2 separate regions of the Homo sapiens genome follow, and region 2 is linked to region 1. Evidence: fine-mapped expression QTL. A gene starts in region 1. The other region holds a variant in brackets. All regions are shown on one strand. Distances are from middle to middle. Region 1 holds the start of CEP41 (centrosomal protein 41). Region 2 overlaps CEP41 (centrosomal protein 41).

Region 1 (2,910 bases):
ATGAGTCTGCTGTAATTATTATTAACTATAGTCACCATGCTGTGCCAGAGATCTCAAAAACCATTCCTCCTGTTTAACTGTAACTTTGTGCCCTTGGATCAACATCTTCCCATTTCTGCCCTCCTTCCCCCCACCCTCCAGGCTCTGGTAACCACCATTTTATTCTCTACTTCTATGAGCTGGACTTTTTAAGATGCCACGTATAAGTGAGATCATGCAGCATTTAGACATTACCAATTGACCATGGCTCTCTTGCAGGGCTTAGACTCAGCCTTACAGCTTTCTCAGCCTAGTACCAGGCAGCCACCAAGAGATGAAACAGTTACAACTCCTATTTGGGATAAAGGCTAAGAACCTCAGCAAGGCAGAGAAAGCCTGGACTCCTACAGGGGCCTGTTCTGAGTTCACACACTCCTTACCTTCACTTGGGCTGTTCTACCCGGGATGATGCTTCACCTGGCTAATGAATGGCCTTGCCACCCCTTCCATCTCCACAACCCTTCTCTCACTCCCTCAGTTGAGTACTACCTATTTTCTCGTAACATCTTGCTCCCCGACCACACTGTACTCAAATTCTGTTCACAGGCTCCTTCACTAGACGCAATTTATTTATTGTTTATTTTTATTTTTTTGAGACAGAGTCGCTCTTATCACCCAGGCTGGAGTGCAATGGCACGATCTCGGCTCACTGGAACCTCCATCTCCTGGGTTCAAGCGATTCTCCTGCCTCAGCCTACCGAGTAGCTGGGATTACAGGCGCCTCACCACCACGCCCGGCTAATTTTTGTATTTTTAGTAGAGACGGGGTTTCGCCATGTTGGCCAGGCTGGTCTCAAACTTCTGACTTCGTGATCCGCCCGCCTCGGCCTCCCAAAGTGCTGGGATTACAGGCTGAGCCACCGCGCCTGGTCCACTATACGCAATTTATTAAAGGGCAGAGGCCTTGTCTTCTTTGTACGTCTAGCACCTACTGCACCGTGGAAGTTTCCAATAACGTTTGTTGAAACTGCCACAAATGCAGCAGGGGACTAGCGGTGAAACAGATGAAGAAACTGAAGGGTCCTATGGAGAGAGGGGTAAGCCTAATGTCCTATTTTGCCCGTTTTCCAAAGGTTTGGTCAGCTTACTCCTGCTCTTCCTGTATCCCCACAATCAGAGATGCTGGCTGGCTTTCAACACGTGCCATTAGTGTGCAGCGCTTCCTTTGTCTTTTCTGTTTTGTAACTGTCACTCCGAGACTGTAAGCCATTTGAGGGCAAGGGCTGTGTCTTTGGGTACTTCGCTCCTCGCAGTCACAAGTACTGGCGTGCGTACGCGGGGAGAGATCGCTCCTCAAAACGGGGTCCTGAACGCTGCCCCGCGGCCCCCAAGCCCGGCCCGCCCCGCCCCTGCATCCCGACCCCTCCTCACGCCGGCCCCTTCCCGCCTTCCGGGCGGCGGAAGTCGCTGGCTGCTCTTCCCTGCCCACATGAGCCTTTTCCGGTGCGCCCGCCCCCTCCGGCTCTCCGGCCGAGACCTGGCCCTCACCTCAGGGTTCCCAATGTGCCTCCGGAGGGACATATTTTCTCCAACCGACCACGTTCGGGGTTCTAGCCTCACGGGTTGCCTCTAACCCTAGCTTCCTACCCCCACAACCTTGTTCAGCCGCCTCCCTATACCCTCTTCTCCGATTGGCCCGTCTTCCCCGGCCGGCCAATGGGGGCCCCGTTTACTCTCTCATCTCAGGGTCGCAGAAGGGCAAGACGCCGCTCAATGGTTGCCAAGGGCAACGCGGGACGCCGGCTAGCGAGGCCTTTTGTTCTCTGGGCTGGGGCTCGCCGGCTCCAGCCTTAGGGCGGGAAGAGAGGCGCGGGGGGAGGGGAAGGCTGGCGCCTGCGCAAAGCCGGGGGCGGGGGCAGTGGCTTGAGAGCCGGGACAAAACACGAGTTTTAGCTAATGTGGAACCATAAATACAACACAAGACTCCCCATCCCCCAGCTCCGTTTTATGGCCGTTTCAACCAAACATCTGGGCTACTGATTCCACAACAGGGAATATTATATGGGCCAGGGTTGTTCAGCAGAAATGGGAGAGTATGGTTTATTATTTTCTGGTTAAGTTAATATGCGAATTATGCAAAATACATGGGTAAATACAGTAATTATCGGTGCTTTAAAAGCTTTTAGGCTAGCTATAGAGCGACATCCTTAATTGCAAAGCACACGCGCTATTCTGTGGTTCATCGTTCATTTAACAAATACTTAATAAGCACCTTATGAGAAAAGCTGCAGTAGGTCTTGTGGAGAATGGGAGGATGACTAGGACCCAATCCCGTCGTCATGGAAACCATTGTGACTCCTGCCACCAGCCACCACCTGTTCCCATTCCGGATCTGAAAATGAAGTCCTAGCACCTTTACAAAACAATTACACACACAGTTTGACTTGGCTCCTAAATGTCCCACCAAATCCATCAAAATTATTATTTCCTTTTACATGAAAGGAACAACACAGTAACCCTTTGTCCTTTGCTCTAAGTTGTTTTTCCAGGAATGGAGAAAGGTTACTCTGAGCAGTTCATACTCGCCAGTTGTCTGTTAGTGAATAATAGCACACATTTGAGCTACTTCAGGGTCTGTGAGATGACCCATTCAACAACATGGCCTCACATGCCCTTGTTCTCTTAGGCACTTCAGCAACCCAACCTTAGGGCTACACCTTGGATCATGTTGCCAGTCAGTGCTGCTTGACCAGAATTTTGAATTCTGGCCACAGCTGCTTCTTGGACTTTTCATGTCACTCTTTCATGTTTATTAAGTTTTGTCTTAATTTCCATAATCTTTGCCAGTTCTTTAACCCCTCTAAAATTCTCAGTCTCTCACTCCTCTGCTAAGGAAGGGTTTGAAGGCTGCAAAAAATTGGAAGGAGGCAG
Region 2 (2,910 bases), 44 kb before region 1:
CATGACAGAAACCAAAACCAACACAAGAAAAATTACCTACGTATTTCTTCCTAGCCTAGGACTCTGATTTCACTTACATTCCACAAGGGAATTAGAGAAAACACGATTTTTTGTTTTGTTCTGTTTTCTTGGTCGAGTAGCCTAAAGTCTTAAGAATTTTTGTATAATTTAAATAGCACCACAGGAAAAATCCCTGAGCAACTAATGAATGTTATTTGGTCTCTTTTCATTCGGATTTATACCAAGCCCAATATGATCGTGCTGGTCCTGGCTAACCACTAAAGGTTAAAAAAAAAAAAAAAGATAAAAGATAAAATGAATGCAGGCCATTTAAATCATTCCATACTTTTTCAAGAGATTGAGCCTGACATTATTACAGCCCAGGGTGTTCCTTTTGTTTTCAAATAAGTAATGTAGCTTTCTCCTTTCTCTCTCGCTTTCTGCTTCTTTTCTTCTCTCTGCCCTCCCTTCTTCCCATTTCCTTGCTTCTTTCTCCCTTCCTTTCTTTTTTTCTTTTCTCCCTTCCTTAAACACAAACCCCTTTAAAGCATTTAAGGTATTATTTAAACTTTGGCCATCACTGCTGTTCAGGGTGCTGTAGTTGTACATCGATGAAGCACCTTCTGTCTCAGGGTTCACAAGCCCCAGACAAGGGCAGCTAGTCAACCCCTGAGACGCTGGTAGGAAGCCATGATCCAGTTGTTGAAGGTGGCTTCAGTCCCAGCCTGAGCAGGAAAAGAAATCCAGGCTTTCTGACTGGAGAGCTGAGGCCCCCTGCCCTAATTGGACTGATTTCCTGATTCATTTATTTTTTTTAAAAAATGCTTTCCTAGGAGATGCAGCAAAAATCACACCAGTCTCCTGTGGCTCCCCCAAATCATCTCGACAGAAAAGAAGAGAGAAGTTGGCAGTTTTCAGCATATTAATAGCAAACGACAAATTAGTAACTATGTACTTTAATCTTCAACATTCATAATTGCACAAAGCATCACTGGTCATTTAAATAATACATGTCAATTAATCTAATGAAGAAACTGGCAAAGTAGAATGTTAAAAGCAATACCTCGAGCACGTAAAGAATGTTTGATATTAACACTTAACATGCAAAACGCAGATTAGAACAGCTCTTTTGAGCATGGTTATTTAAAATCCTTACCAACAGGGCAAAGCAAGCACTGTGGAGAAATACACATAAATATATCCAACCTGCCAGATCTCTCAGGTGAGTGCACACCAATTCTAACAGGTCTGGCTGACCTGGCTTTCCACATATATACAGTGGTTTCTAATACTCCAAAGTTGTCTGACGATGGGAACGCAGAATCGGAACAAGGAGGGAAGACCATTTACTTTCAAAATAGAATCCGGCAGGGAAGTCTCAACTCCTGACAAGTCACCTTTAAAACAGCATAACCAGAACTTTCTTACAGAGAAAAAT[C/A]TTTTTTCCTTAAAAATGTATATGTGGCAAAAATGGCTGAAAATCTTGTCCATGCTAGGGGAAAGCTGAGTGTGGAAAAATGTGCATTTTTCTATCTATGCTGTAAAGAAAATACAAAGCCAGAGCATTTTGGCATTAGCAAAGGCTGAACTAAGTTCTCAGGCAATAAATTTATGGGGAAACATGACAGGCTCCTCATTAAAGCTATGTGTACGTTGGCTGAATTTTATACAAGATTCTTGAATCTTGTGGAAAATTGGGCATGGCTTGACATCTGAACAATGTCCCTGGTTTGTTTGATTTCTAAAGCATCGGAAAATGTTGCACTTTGGAAATCAAGTAGAGAAGAATAAACACACTCTAAAACAGAACTGGGCTGAATCTGAAAGTTATTTTTCCATATGTCTCTATGAGATATTTATTACGTTTATTTCTCATACAAACACAGCCCCCATGCTAGAAATACTGTGGTGCATTTTTTTTTTTTTTTTTTTTTTTTTTTGGTGGCGAGAAAATAGTACTGTTAAGGCAAATCTTACCCCGTAGCAGTTACCAGCAGGACAGGCAATTTTCAGTGGGCTTTTCAGAAGCTGGTTGCCATGACAAAGAGCACAATTTATTCCTCAGTCCCTTATCACAGCTACGATCACAGACCATAAAAATTAACACCGCTCTTTTCCATCTGATTTCAGAGTTCCTCATCCTTACCTGAGGCCTTTTGTTCCCCCAATTAAATGGAATGAATGTCAGTCATTTAGCAATTCAATTAATGCTGATTCAAAATTCCGGCCAAAACCAGAATCTATAATCACAACTTCCTAATCACAGTTCAGTCATGAGAATGAAAAGTAAGCAGGAAATTGCACTAATTACTCAATTAGACTAATACTGTATTTCTAAGCAAGGGCTTACGAGGTTGTCAGCCCTGACAAAGGACTTCGGAGTCCTCTTCACCTTGTGTGTCCACAGTTGTCCAACCAAAGCTGGTATTTTCAACTGGCCATAATTTCTGTCCATCTAACATGGATGGACTGAAGCTGGGCAATGGGCGTCATAACTGATATACTGACCACAAGTGAGGGCCGCTTTGGTGGGCTTCAAGGGGCACAGGCCGGTGTGGTGGCCAGGGCTTTCCCATGAGAGGCCCTCCTCCCCGGTGTGAAGACACCCACATGCATACCTTTCTGGCTCCAGGAAATATCTAGTAAGGGGGAGCATTCAGTGAGTGTACAGCTACTTTCCTCATCTTCAATTTCAGTGAGTACACAGGCACTGGCTTCCATACTCAAAACAGGGCCTGCAATATGCTGGGCAGAGAGCTCCTTGCTGAGTGAGCCTGCTGGGGTGGGGTCTGCAGGCGGCTGGAACCTAAGGCTCATCTGCACCCTTGGAAACAGCTTCTCACACCAAGACTGCCCGGAGAAGCCTTCATGAAGTCAAGAACAGTGAATGAAAAGGTGGCAGGGACAGGC

What was found.
Region 2: its variant is fine-mapped to the expression of CEP41 in whole blood (TOPMed, PIP above 0.99).

The regions. Positions count from the first base shown.
Region 1 is chr7:130,439,407-130,442,316 of GRCh38, forward strand. CEP41 (centrosomal protein 41) reads right to left here and starts at 1,610. Exons shown (of 11, transcript NM_018718.3): 1 at 1,528-1,610. The coding sequence starts at 1,560. LOC105375505 (a long non-coding RNA gene) reads left to right here and starts at 2,348. Exons shown (of 3, transcript XR_927973.3): 1 at 2,348-2,910. RefSeq lists an enhancer at 1,296-2,050.
Region 2 is chr7:130,395,594-130,398,503 of GRCh38, forward strand. CEP41 (centrosomal protein 41) reads right to left here. Exons shown (of 11, transcript NM_018718.3): 11 at 1-2,910. Among named protein-coding and RNA genes, the nearest start is that of CPA1, 17 kb to the left of the region's middle. The variant C/A (reference allele first, on the strand shown) is at 1,439.